Homo sapiens: one gene and its partners. The protein of the gene in region 1 purifies or fractionates together with the protein of each later gene. This does not show direct contact. Each region holds a gene or a part of one and is shown on either strand. Other genes may lie near its edges. The genes, in order: ERN2, DNAJC3 and UGGT2.

Region 1 (3,356 bases):
CAAGCGATTCTGATTTTTTTTTTTTTTAAAGAAAATCCAGAAATCCAAATTTTATGTGGAATTTCTCAAATGTTAAAATATTGGGCCAGGCATGTGGCTGACACCTTGTAATCCCAGCACTTTGGGAGGCCAGGAGTTCAAGACCAGCGTGGGCAACATGGTGAGACCCTGCCTCTACAAAAAAATACAAAAATTAGCTGGGTGCCATGTTGTGTGCCTGTAGTCCCAGCTACTTGGGAGGCTGAGGTGAGAGGATCCCTTGAGCCCAGGAGTTTAAGGCTGCAGTAAGCTGTGATGGTATGACTGCACTCCATGACAGAGCAAGACCCTGTCTCAAAAATATATATATATAGGGCCAAGCACAGTGGCTCATGCCTATAATCTCAGCACTTTGGGAGGCCGAGGTAGGTGAATCACCTGAGGGCTGGGAGTTCGAGACCAGCCTGGCCAACATGGCATAAACCCCATCTCTACTAAAAATACAAAAATTAACTGGGCATGGTGGCACCTGCCTATAGTCCCAGCTACTAGGGAGGCTGAGGCAGGAGAATCACTTGAACCCAGGAGGTGGAGGTTGCAGTGAGCTGAGATCATGTCACTGCACTCCAGCTTGGGCAACAAGAGCGAAACTCCATCTCAAAAAAAAAAAAATATATATATATATAGGCCACTAATTTAAATATAAACTGTATAGTCTCATGACATCATGCATTTAGTCCTTGAGCCCTGCTCACCACTTTGAGCTTTCTCTCAACTTTAGGAGTGGGGGCAGCCTTCCCTGGTGACTGTCCTTTTGTGTGATTGGCATCCATTTCTCTGGCTTCAACTTCCGCCCACACACTGTGACTCAAAATCCGTAATTCAGGGGTCCCAAACGCAAGTGTCTGTGTGGGTCAGACGCTGCTCTGTGTATCAACTAATTAGCTCATCTGATGCCCTCCAAAACCTTCGATACCAGTGGTTCTGGAACTTGGCTCCACATAAAAATGACCCAGGCAATTAGGTAAAAATCACGGGGTGTGGGGCCTGGGGTTTTGTTTGTTTGTTTGTTTTTTGTTTTTTGAGAGAAAGAGTCTCACTCTGTTGTCCAGGCTAGAGTGCAGTAGTGTGATCTTGACTCTGGAACTTCCACCTCCCAGGCTCAAGCGATCCTCCCACCTCAGCCTCCCAAGTAGCTGGGACCACAGATGCACACACCCACACCGGCTAAATTGTGTGTGCTTTTGGTAGAGACGAGGTCTCCCTAGGTTACCCAGGCTGGTCTCGAACTCCTGAGCTCAAGCAATCTGCCTGCCTCGGCCTCTCAAAGTGCTGGGATTACAGGCGTGAGCCACCGCACCCGGCAATGGGCATTCTTTTTTTAAGTTGCGCAGTGGTTGTGAAGCACAGTGAAGATTACAAACCATTTTCTAGCTCAGGGTTTCCCAACCTCAGCACAACTGGCATTTTGTTAGTTCTTTGTGTTGGGTGTTGTCCTGTCCTGTAAGACATTTAGCAGCATTTCCAGCAGATGCCAGTAGCCCCTCCCTCCCAAGTCATGGCAGTCAAAAATGTCTCCAGACATTGCCTAATGTCCCCTGGGTGGCAAAACAGTCCTGATACTGCTGTAGAAGGAGGGACAAATTATCCCTTCTTTAAGGGAAACAAGCTTGGAGGAGCAGCTCAAAGTCACACAGCAAGTGTCATGGAGTCTCCTCAGGAGGGGAACTGGGACAGGGACGGATTCCTGCAGCCTGGGGCAGCTGTGTGCCTGGAGGACTTGGTGGATAGACTCACAGGACTGTCTGGTGGCAGGAGCTGCAGAAGCTCGGGCGCCATCCAGCCTTCCGTGCCGGGGATGCCGGAGTGGAGGCTGAAGCTACAGCGGCCAGCAGGCAGCTTCTTGCAGAGGCCGAAGTCTGAGAGCACCACTCTGCCCAGGCCCTGGCTGTCAGGCCCGGTGATGAGAATATTTCCTGGCTTCAGGTCCCGGTGCACTGTGGGAGAGGGGCAGAAAGAAAGCTGGTTGCTGAGGGCGGAAGGCAGGGGCTAAGGACAGGGAGCGGGAGGCAGGGGAAGTGCGGGTACCTATGTGTAAAGAGTGCAGGTGGGCCAGGCCAGACATCAGCTGCTGCAGCACGACCTCGGGCTCCAGACCCCCGCGATCCAGGTCCGGGTTTTCTACGTACTGAGCAGCAGCAAGGGCCAAAGCATCACTCTCCAGCCCGGACCTTCCCACTCACCCTCCCTGAACCGCAATGCAACTCACCTCCTGCAAGGAGGCCCGGCAGAGCTCCAGGGCAATGTAGTGGAACTGGGGTCCCCGCTCGGTGCAGAAGTAGCGGAGCACGTTGGGGTGCCTGTCAGACTCCTGCAGCAGTTGAACTTCCCGCCGAACCAGGCCAAAGCACTCGCGGAGGAGCCGCTTGACAGCCACTGCCCGTCCCTCAAACTGTCCCCTGGAAAGTGGGTGATGGCGGGGGCAGGGGGGCATTCAGGGAAAGCAGATAAAGGGACAAACATGGTGGCTCACACCTGTAATCCTAGCACTTTGGGAGGCCAAGGCGGGCGGGTCACTTGAGGTCAGGAGTTCGAGACCAGCCTGGCCAACATGGTGAAACCCCCATCTCTACTAAAAAAAATATAAAAATTAGCCGGGCATGGTGATACACACCTGTAATCCCAGCTACTGGGAAGGCTGAGGCCCGGAATTGCTTGAACCTGGGAAGCGGAGGTTGCAGTGAGCTGAGATTGCACCACTGCCCTCCAGCCTGGGCAACAGAGCAAGACTCAAAAAAAAAAAAAAAAAAAAAAAAACAGATAAAGGAAAGAGCAGGACTGGCGAGTGAGGGATCAACCTGTACCCACCTCGGGGAGTCTTTGAAAGAATGTCTCTCCAGGGGACAGTGCCCACGAGGGCTGTGAGTGCCATGTCCCCAGCTTGGCTCCTGGCTGCCACTCACCGGAAAACGAAAGTCCCGCCTGCCCCGCGGCCCAGCACGTCCTTGGGATTGAAGGAAATCTTCCCCACTACGGTGAGTTGCTCAGCTGGGGGAGAGGAGGGTGGTGACTCAGGGAGCCTCTGCCCACCTTTGCCGGCCACTGGCCCAGTCCAGACTCACCTTGACATTTTCTGGGCCTCCACCCTCCCATGCTCAGCCTGGTGCAGTGGGTAAGAGCAAGGGCCCAAGTGCCAGACTGTCTGGATCCAATGCCTGGTGCTGCCACTGATTCTTTGTCTACTTAGGCAAATTCCTCACTTCTGTGCCCTCGGTATTCTCATCTGTAGAGTGGGGAGCTAAAGCTAAAGAGCCCACACAATATTATTGTGAGGATTAAATGGATATATGGAAAGAACGGGTGGAGGTGATGTTTGC
Region 2 (3,650 bases), on another chromosome or scaffold:
TCAAGCCAAAAACCAAATCAAGAATTCAATCCCATTTACAAAAGCCATATGCAAAAAAATAAAATACCTAGGAAAACACTGACCAAGGAGGTGAAAGATCTCCATGAGAACTACAAAACACTTATGAAACAAATCATATATGTCATAAATAAACACAAAAACATCCCAGGCTCATGGATTTGGAGACTATCATTAAAATAACCATACTGCCCATAGTAATCTGTAGATTCAACACAATTCCTATCAAATCACCAATGTCATTTTTCAGAGAACTAGGAAAAACAATTCTAAAGTCCATACAGCACCAAAAAAGGGCATGAATAGCCAAAGTAATCCTAACCAAAAAGAACAAATCCAGAGGCATCACATTACTTGACTTCAAATTATACTACAAGGCTATAGTAACTAAAATGGCATGGTACTGGTACAAAAATACGCACACAGATCAATGGACTACAATAGAGAACCCCAGAAATAAAACCACATACTTACATCCAACAGATTGATCTTTGACAAAGCTGACAAATATAAACAACAGGGAAAGGACACCCTAATTCAATAAATGGTGCTGGGAAAATTGGCTAGCCATATGCAGAAGAAACTGGATCTCTGTCTCCCAGCATATACAAAAACTACCTCAAGATAGATTAAACATTTTGGACATTGGCCTAGGCAAACAACTTATGACGAAGACCCCAAACACAAATGCAACAAAACCAAAAATAAACAAATGGGACTTAACTAAAAAGCTTCTGCACATCAAAAGATAATCAACAGGGCAAAGAGACAAACTACAGAATGAGAGAAAACATTTGCAAATTATGCCTCCGACAAAGGACTAATATCCAGAATCTACAAGACACTCAAACAACTCAACAAGAAGAAAACAAAGAACCCCATTAAAAAGTGGGCAAAGGGCCAGGCGCACTGGCTCACGCCTGTAATCCCAGCACTTTGGGAGGCCAAGGCGGGTGGCTCACAAGGTCGGGAGATCAAGACCATTCTGGCTAGCACAGTGAAACCCTGTCTCTACTAAAAATACAAAAAATTAGCCGGGCATGGTGGCAGGCACCTGTAGTCCCAGCTGCTTAGGAGGCTGAGGCAGGAGAATGGCGTGAACCTGGGAGGCGGAGCTTGCAGTGAGCCAAGATCGTGCCACTGCATTCCAGCCTGGGCGACAGAGCAAGACTCTGTCTCAAAAAAAAAAAAAGTGGGCAAAGGACATTAAGAGACATTTCTCAAAAGAAGACATACAAGCAGCCAACAAACATGAAAAAATGTTCATCACTAATCATCAGAGAAATGCAAATTAAAACCACAATGAAATATCAATCATCTTACACAAGTCTGAGTGGCTATTACTAAAAAGCTTAAAAAAAAATAGATGTTAGCATGGAGGTGAAGAAATTGTAACACATATATGGGTGGCAGCAATGTAAATTAGTTCAACCACTATGGAAAACAATATGGAGATTTCTAAAAAAAAACAAAAAACCTACCACCAAGCCCCAACTCCAACATTAGGGATTACAATTCAACATAAGATTTGGGTGGGGCACAGATCCAAACCATATCATTCCGCCCCAGCTCCTCCAAAATATCATGTTCTCACATTACAAAATACAATCATCCCTTCTCAACAGCCCCCAAAGTCTTAACTCATTCCAGCATTAACTCAAAAGTCCAAAGTCTCATCTGGGACAAGCCAAGTCCCTTCCACCTATAAGCCTATAAAATCAAAAACAAGTTAATTACTTCCAAGATACAATGGGATTATAGGCATTGGGTAAATAGTCCCATTCCAAAAGGGTAAAACCGGCCAAAAGAAAAAGGCTACGGGCCCCATGCACGTGCTAAAACCCAGCAGGGCAGTTATTAAATCTTAAAGCTCCAAAATAATCTCCTTTGACTCCATGTCTCACATCCAGGGCATATTGCAGCAAGGGGTGAGCTCCCAAGGCCTTGGGCAGTGCCACTCCTGTGACTTTGCAGGGCTCAGCCCACGCGGCTGCTGTCAAGGGCTGGCAATGAGTGGCTGCAGCTTTTCCAGGTGCATGGTGCAAGCTGTCAGCGGATCTACCATTCTGGGGTCTGAAAGATGGTGGTCTTTCTCACAGCTCCACTAGGCAGTGCCCCAGTGGGGACTCTGTTGGGGGCTCCAACCCCACATTTCCCCTCTGCACTGCCCTAGTAGAGATTTTTCCATGAGGGCTCTGCCCCTGCAGCAACCTTCTGCCTGAACATCCAGGCTTTTCCATATATCTGAAATCTAGGCTGAGGCTCCCAAGCCTCAATTCTTGGCTTTCAGCACCTGCAGGCTTAACAGCATGTGGAATCTTCCAAGGGTTTGGGCTGGCACCGTCTGAAGGCCTGAGCTATATCTGGGCCCCTTTCAGCCATGGCTGGAGCTGGAGTAACTAGGATGCAGGCAGCAGTGTCCTGAGGCTGGCAGGGCCCTGGCCCAGGAAACTGTTCTTCCCTCCTAGGTCTCTGGGCCTATGATAGAAGGAGCTGCCTTAAAGGTCGCTGAGATGCCTTGGAGCCCTTTTTCCCATTGTCTTGGCTATCAGCACTTGGCTCCTCTTTACTTATGCAAATTCATGCAGTCTGCTTGAATTACTCCCCTATAAATGGGTTTTTCTTTTCTACCACATGGTCAGACTGAAAATTTTCCAACTCTTCTGCTCTGTTTCCCTTTTAAATGTAAGTTCCAATTTTACATCATTTCTTTGTTCATGAATATGAGCACTGGCTGCTAGAGGCCAGGTCACATCTTGAACACTTTGCTGCTTAGAAGTTTCTTCCACCAGATACCCTAAATCACCTCTCTCAAGTTCAAAGTTCCACAGATCCATAGACCAGGGGTACAATGCCACCAGTCTCTTTACTAAAGCATAGCAAGAGTGGCCTTTACTCCAGTTCCCAATAAGTTCCTCATCTGCGGTCATTCTGAGCCCTCCTCAGCCTGAACTTCACTGTCTATACCACTATCAGCATTTTGGTCACAACCATTCAACAAGTCTCTAGGAGGTTTCAAACTTTCGTTCCTCTTCCTGTCTTCCTCTGAGTCCTCCAAACTGTCCCAACCTCTGCCCATTACCCCATTCCAAAGTTGCTTCCTTCTACAATTTCAGGTATCTTTATAGCAATGCCCCACTCCCAGTACCAATTTTCTGTATTAGTCCATTCTCACATTGCTATAAAGAAATACCCGGAACTGGGTAATTTTTTTTTTTTTTTTTTTGAGATGGAGTTTTGCTCTGTCACCCAGGCTGGAGTGCAGTGGTGCAATCTCGGCTCACTTCATCCTCTGCCTCCCAGGTTTAAGCAATTCTCTGCCTCAGCCTCCCAAGTAGCTGGGATTTCAGGCGCCCACCTCCACAACAGGCTAAGTTTTTTTTTTTTTGTATTTTTAGTAGAGACGGGGTTTCACCATCTTGCCCAGGCTGATCTTGAACTCCTGACCTCGTGATCCATCCACCTCGGCCTCCCAAAGTGCTGGGATTACAGGCGTGAGCCACAGTGCCCAGCCGGAACTGGGTAATTTATAAAGAAAAGAGGTTTAATTGGCTGACGGTTCTGTAGGTTGTACATGAAGCATGGCTGGGGAGGCCTCAGGAAATTTACAATCATGGCAAAAGGTAAAGGAG
Region 3 (3,650 bases), on another chromosome or scaffold:
CCTACCCTAATACTGCGCTTTTCCAACGGTCTTAGCAAACGGCACACCAGGAGATTATATCCTGCGCATGGCTTGAAGAGTCCCATGTCCACGGAGCCTCCCTCATTGCTAGCACAGCAGTCTGAGATCCAACCGCAAGGCAGCAGTGAGGCTGGGGGAGGGGCACCCGCCATTGCTGAGGTTTGAGTAGGTAAACAAAGCAGTCTGGAAGCTTGAACTGGGTGGAGCCCACCACAGCTCCAGGAGGCCTGCCTGCCTCTGTAGACTCCACCTCTGGGGGTCAGGGCATAACTGAACAAAAGGCAGCAGAAACTTCTGCACACTTATATGTCCCTGTCTGACAGCTTTGAAGAGAGTGGTGCTTCTCCCAGCACGGAGTTTGAGATCTGAGAACAGACAGACTGCCTCCTCAAGTGGATCCCTGAACCCCAAGTAGCCTAATGGGGAGGCACTTCCCAGTAGGGGCCGACTGACACCTCATACAGCCGGGTGCCCCTCTGAGACGAAGCTTCCAGAGGAACAATAAGACAGCAACATTTGCCGTTCTGCAATATTTGCTGTTCTGCAGCCTCTGCTGTAGATACCCAGGCAAACAGGGTCTGGAGTGGACCTCCAGCAAACTCCAACAGACCTGCAGCTGAGGGTCCTGACTGTTAGAAGTAAAACTAACAAACAGAAAGGACATCCACACCAAAATCCCATCTGTACGTCACCATCATCAAAGACCAAAGGTAGATAAAACCACAAAGATGGGGAGAAACCAGAGCAGAAAAGCTGCAAATTCTAAAAATCAGAGTGCCTCTTCTCCTCCAAAGGAACGCAGCTCCTTGCTATGTGAGAGAGACACACATAGGCTCAAAATAAAGGGATGGAGGAAGATCTACCAAGCAAATGGGAAACAAAAAAAAGCAGGGGTTGCAATCCTAGTCTCTGATAAAACAGACTTTAAACCAACAAAGATCAGAAGAGACAAAGAAGGCCATTACATAATGGTAAAGGGATTAATTCAACAAGAAGAGCTAACTATCCTAAATACATATGCACCCAATACAGGAGCAACTAGATTCATAAAGCAAGTCCTTAGAGACCTAGAAAGAGATTTAGACTCCCACACAATAATAATGGGAGACTTTAACACCCCACTGTCAACATTAGACAGATCAACGAGACAGAAAGTTAACAAGGATATCCAGGAATTGAACTCAGCTCTGCACCAAGCAGACCTAATAGACATCTACAGAACTCTCCACCCCAAATCAACAGAATATACGTTCTTCTCAGCACCACACCGCACTTATTCCAAAATTGACCACATAGTTGCAAGTAAAGGACTCCTCAGCAAATGTAAAAGAAGAGAAATTATAACATACTGTCTCTCAGACAACAGCAATCAAACTAGAACTCAAGATTAAGAAATTCACTCATAACCACTCAACTACATGAAAACTGAACAACCTGCTCCTGAATGACTACTGGGTACATAACAAAATGAAGGCAGAAATAAAGCTGTTCTTTGAAACCAATAAGAACAAAGACACAACATACCAGAATCTCTGGGACACATTTAAAGCAGTGTGTAGAGGGAAATTTATAGCACTAAATGTCCACAAGAGAAAGCAGGAAAGATCTAAAATTGACACCCTAACATCAAATTAAAAGAACTAGAGAAGCAGGAGCAACCACATTCAAAAGCTAGCAGAAGGCAAGAAATAACTAAGATCAGAGCAAAACTGAAGGAGATAGAGACACAAGAAAACCATTCAAAAAAATATCAATGAATTCAGGAGCTGGTTTTTTGAAAAGATCAACAAAATTGATAGACCGCTAGCAAGACTAATAAAGAAGAAAAGAGAAGAATCAAATAGATGCAATAAAAAATGATAAAGGGGATATCACTACCAATCCCACAGAAATCCAAACTACCATCAGAGAATACTATAAACACCTCTACGCAAATAAACTAGAAAATCTAGAAGAAATGGATAAATTCCTGTACACATACACCCTCCCAAGACTAAACCAGGAAGAAGTTGAATCCCTGAATACACCAATAACAGGCTCTGAAATTGAGGCAATAATAGCCTACCAAACAAAAAAAGTCCAGGACCAGACAGATTCACAGCCAAATTGTACCAAAGGTACAAAGAGGAGCTGGTACCATTCTTTCTTAAACTATTCCAATTGATACAAAAAAAGGGAATCCTCCCTAACTCATTTTATAAGGCCAGCATCATCCTGATACCAAAGCCTGGCAGAGACACAACAAAAAAAGAGAATTTTAGACCAATATCCCTGATGAACATCAATGCAAAAACCTCAATAAAATACTGGCAAACCAAATCCAGCAGCATCTCAAAAAGCTTATCCACCATGATCAAGTGGGCTTCATCCCTGGGATGCAAGGCTGTTTCAACATATGCAAATCAATAAACATAATTCATCATATAAACAGAACCAAAGACAAAAACCACATGATTATCTTAATAGATGCAGAAAAGGCCTTTGACAAAATTCAACAGCCCTTCATGCTAAAAACTCTCAAATTAGGTATTGATGGGACATATCTCAAAATAATAAGAGCTATTTATGACAAATCTGCAGCCAATATCATACTGAATGGGCAAAATCTGGAAGCATTCCCTTTGAAAACTGGCACAAGACAAGGATGCCCTCTCTCACCACTCCTATTCAACACAGTGTTGGAAGTTCTGGCCAGGGCAATCAGGCAGGAGAAAGAAATAAAGGGTATTCAATTAGGAAAAGAGGAAGTCAAATTGTCCCTGTTGGCAGATGATATGATTGTATATTTAGAAAACCCCATCATCTCAGCCCAAAATCTCCTTAAGCTGATAAGCAACTTCAGCAAAGTCTCAGGATACAAAATCAATGTACAAAAATCACAAGCATTGCTCTATGCCAATAACAGACAAACAGAGGGCCAAATCATGAGTGAACTCCCATTCACAATTGCTTCAAAGAGAATAAAATACCTAGGAATCCAACTTACAAGGGATGTGAAGGACCTCTTCAAAGAGAACTACAAACCACTGCTCAAAAAAATAAAAGAGGACACAAACAAATGGAAGAATATTCCATGCTCATGGATAGGAAGAATCAGTATCGTGAAAACGGCCATACTGCCCAAGGTAATTTATAGATTCAATGCCATCCCCATCAAGCTACCAATGACTTTCTTCACAAAATTGGAAAAAACTACTTTAAAGTTCATATGGATACAAAAGAGAGCTCGCATTGCCAAGACAATCCTAAGCAAAAAGAACAAAGCTGGAGGCATCACGCTACCTGACTTCAAACTATACTATAAGGCTACAGTAACCAAAACACCATGGTACTGGTGCCAAAATAGAGATATAGACCAATGGAACAGAGCAGAGCCCTCAGAAATAATACCACACATCTACAACCATCTGATCTTTGACAAATCTGACAAAAACAAGAAATGGGGAAAGGATTCCCTATTTAATAAATGGTGCTGGAAAAACTGGCTAGCCATATGTAGAAAGCTGAAACTGGATCCCTTCCTTACACCTTATACAAAAATTAATTCAAGATGGACTAAAGACTTAAATGTTAGATCTAAAACCATAAAAACTCTAGAAGAAAACCTAGGCAATACCATTCAGGACATA

The links.
Region 2: the proteins of ERN2 (region 1) and DNAJC3 purify together in Homo sapiens (affinity purification with mass spectrometry; one large-scale study listed by BioGRID and IntAct). This does not show direct contact.
Region 3: the proteins of ERN2 (region 1) and UGGT2 purify together in Homo sapiens (affinity purification with mass spectrometry; one large-scale study listed by BioGRID and IntAct). This does not show direct contact.

The regions. Positions count from the first base shown.
Region 1 is NC_000016.10:23,692,952-23,696,307, forward strand, and holds part of ERN2 (serine/threonine-protein kinase/endoribonuclease IRE2 isoform a precursor), read right to left. Parts: intron 3,028-3,356; coding exon 2,943-3,027; exon of another isoform or gene 2,780-2,942; intron 2,439-2,779; coding exon 2,249-2,438; intron 2,168-2,248; coding exon 2,068-2,167; intron 1,977-2,067; coding exon 1,777-1,976; intron 1-1,776. UniProt on the Homo sapiens protein: Induces translational repression through 28S ribosomal RNA cleavage in response to ER stress. Pro-apoptotic. Appears to play no role in the unfolded-protein response, unlike closely related proteins.
Region 2 is NC_000013.11:95,683,527-95,687,176, reverse strand, and holds part of DNAJC3 (dnaJ homolog subfamily C member 3 precursor), read right to left. Parts: intron 1-3,650. UniProt on the Homo sapiens protein: Involved in the unfolded protein response (UPR) during endoplasmic reticulum (ER) stress.
Region 3 is NC_000013.11:96,046,763-96,050,412, forward strand, and holds part of UGGT2 (UDP-glucose:glycoprotein glucosyltransferase 2 precursor), read right to left. Parts: intron 1-3,650. UniProt on the Homo sapiens protein: Recognizes glycoproteins with minor folding defects. Reglucosylates single N-glycans near the misfolded part of the protein, thus providing quality control for protein folding in the endoplasmic reticulum.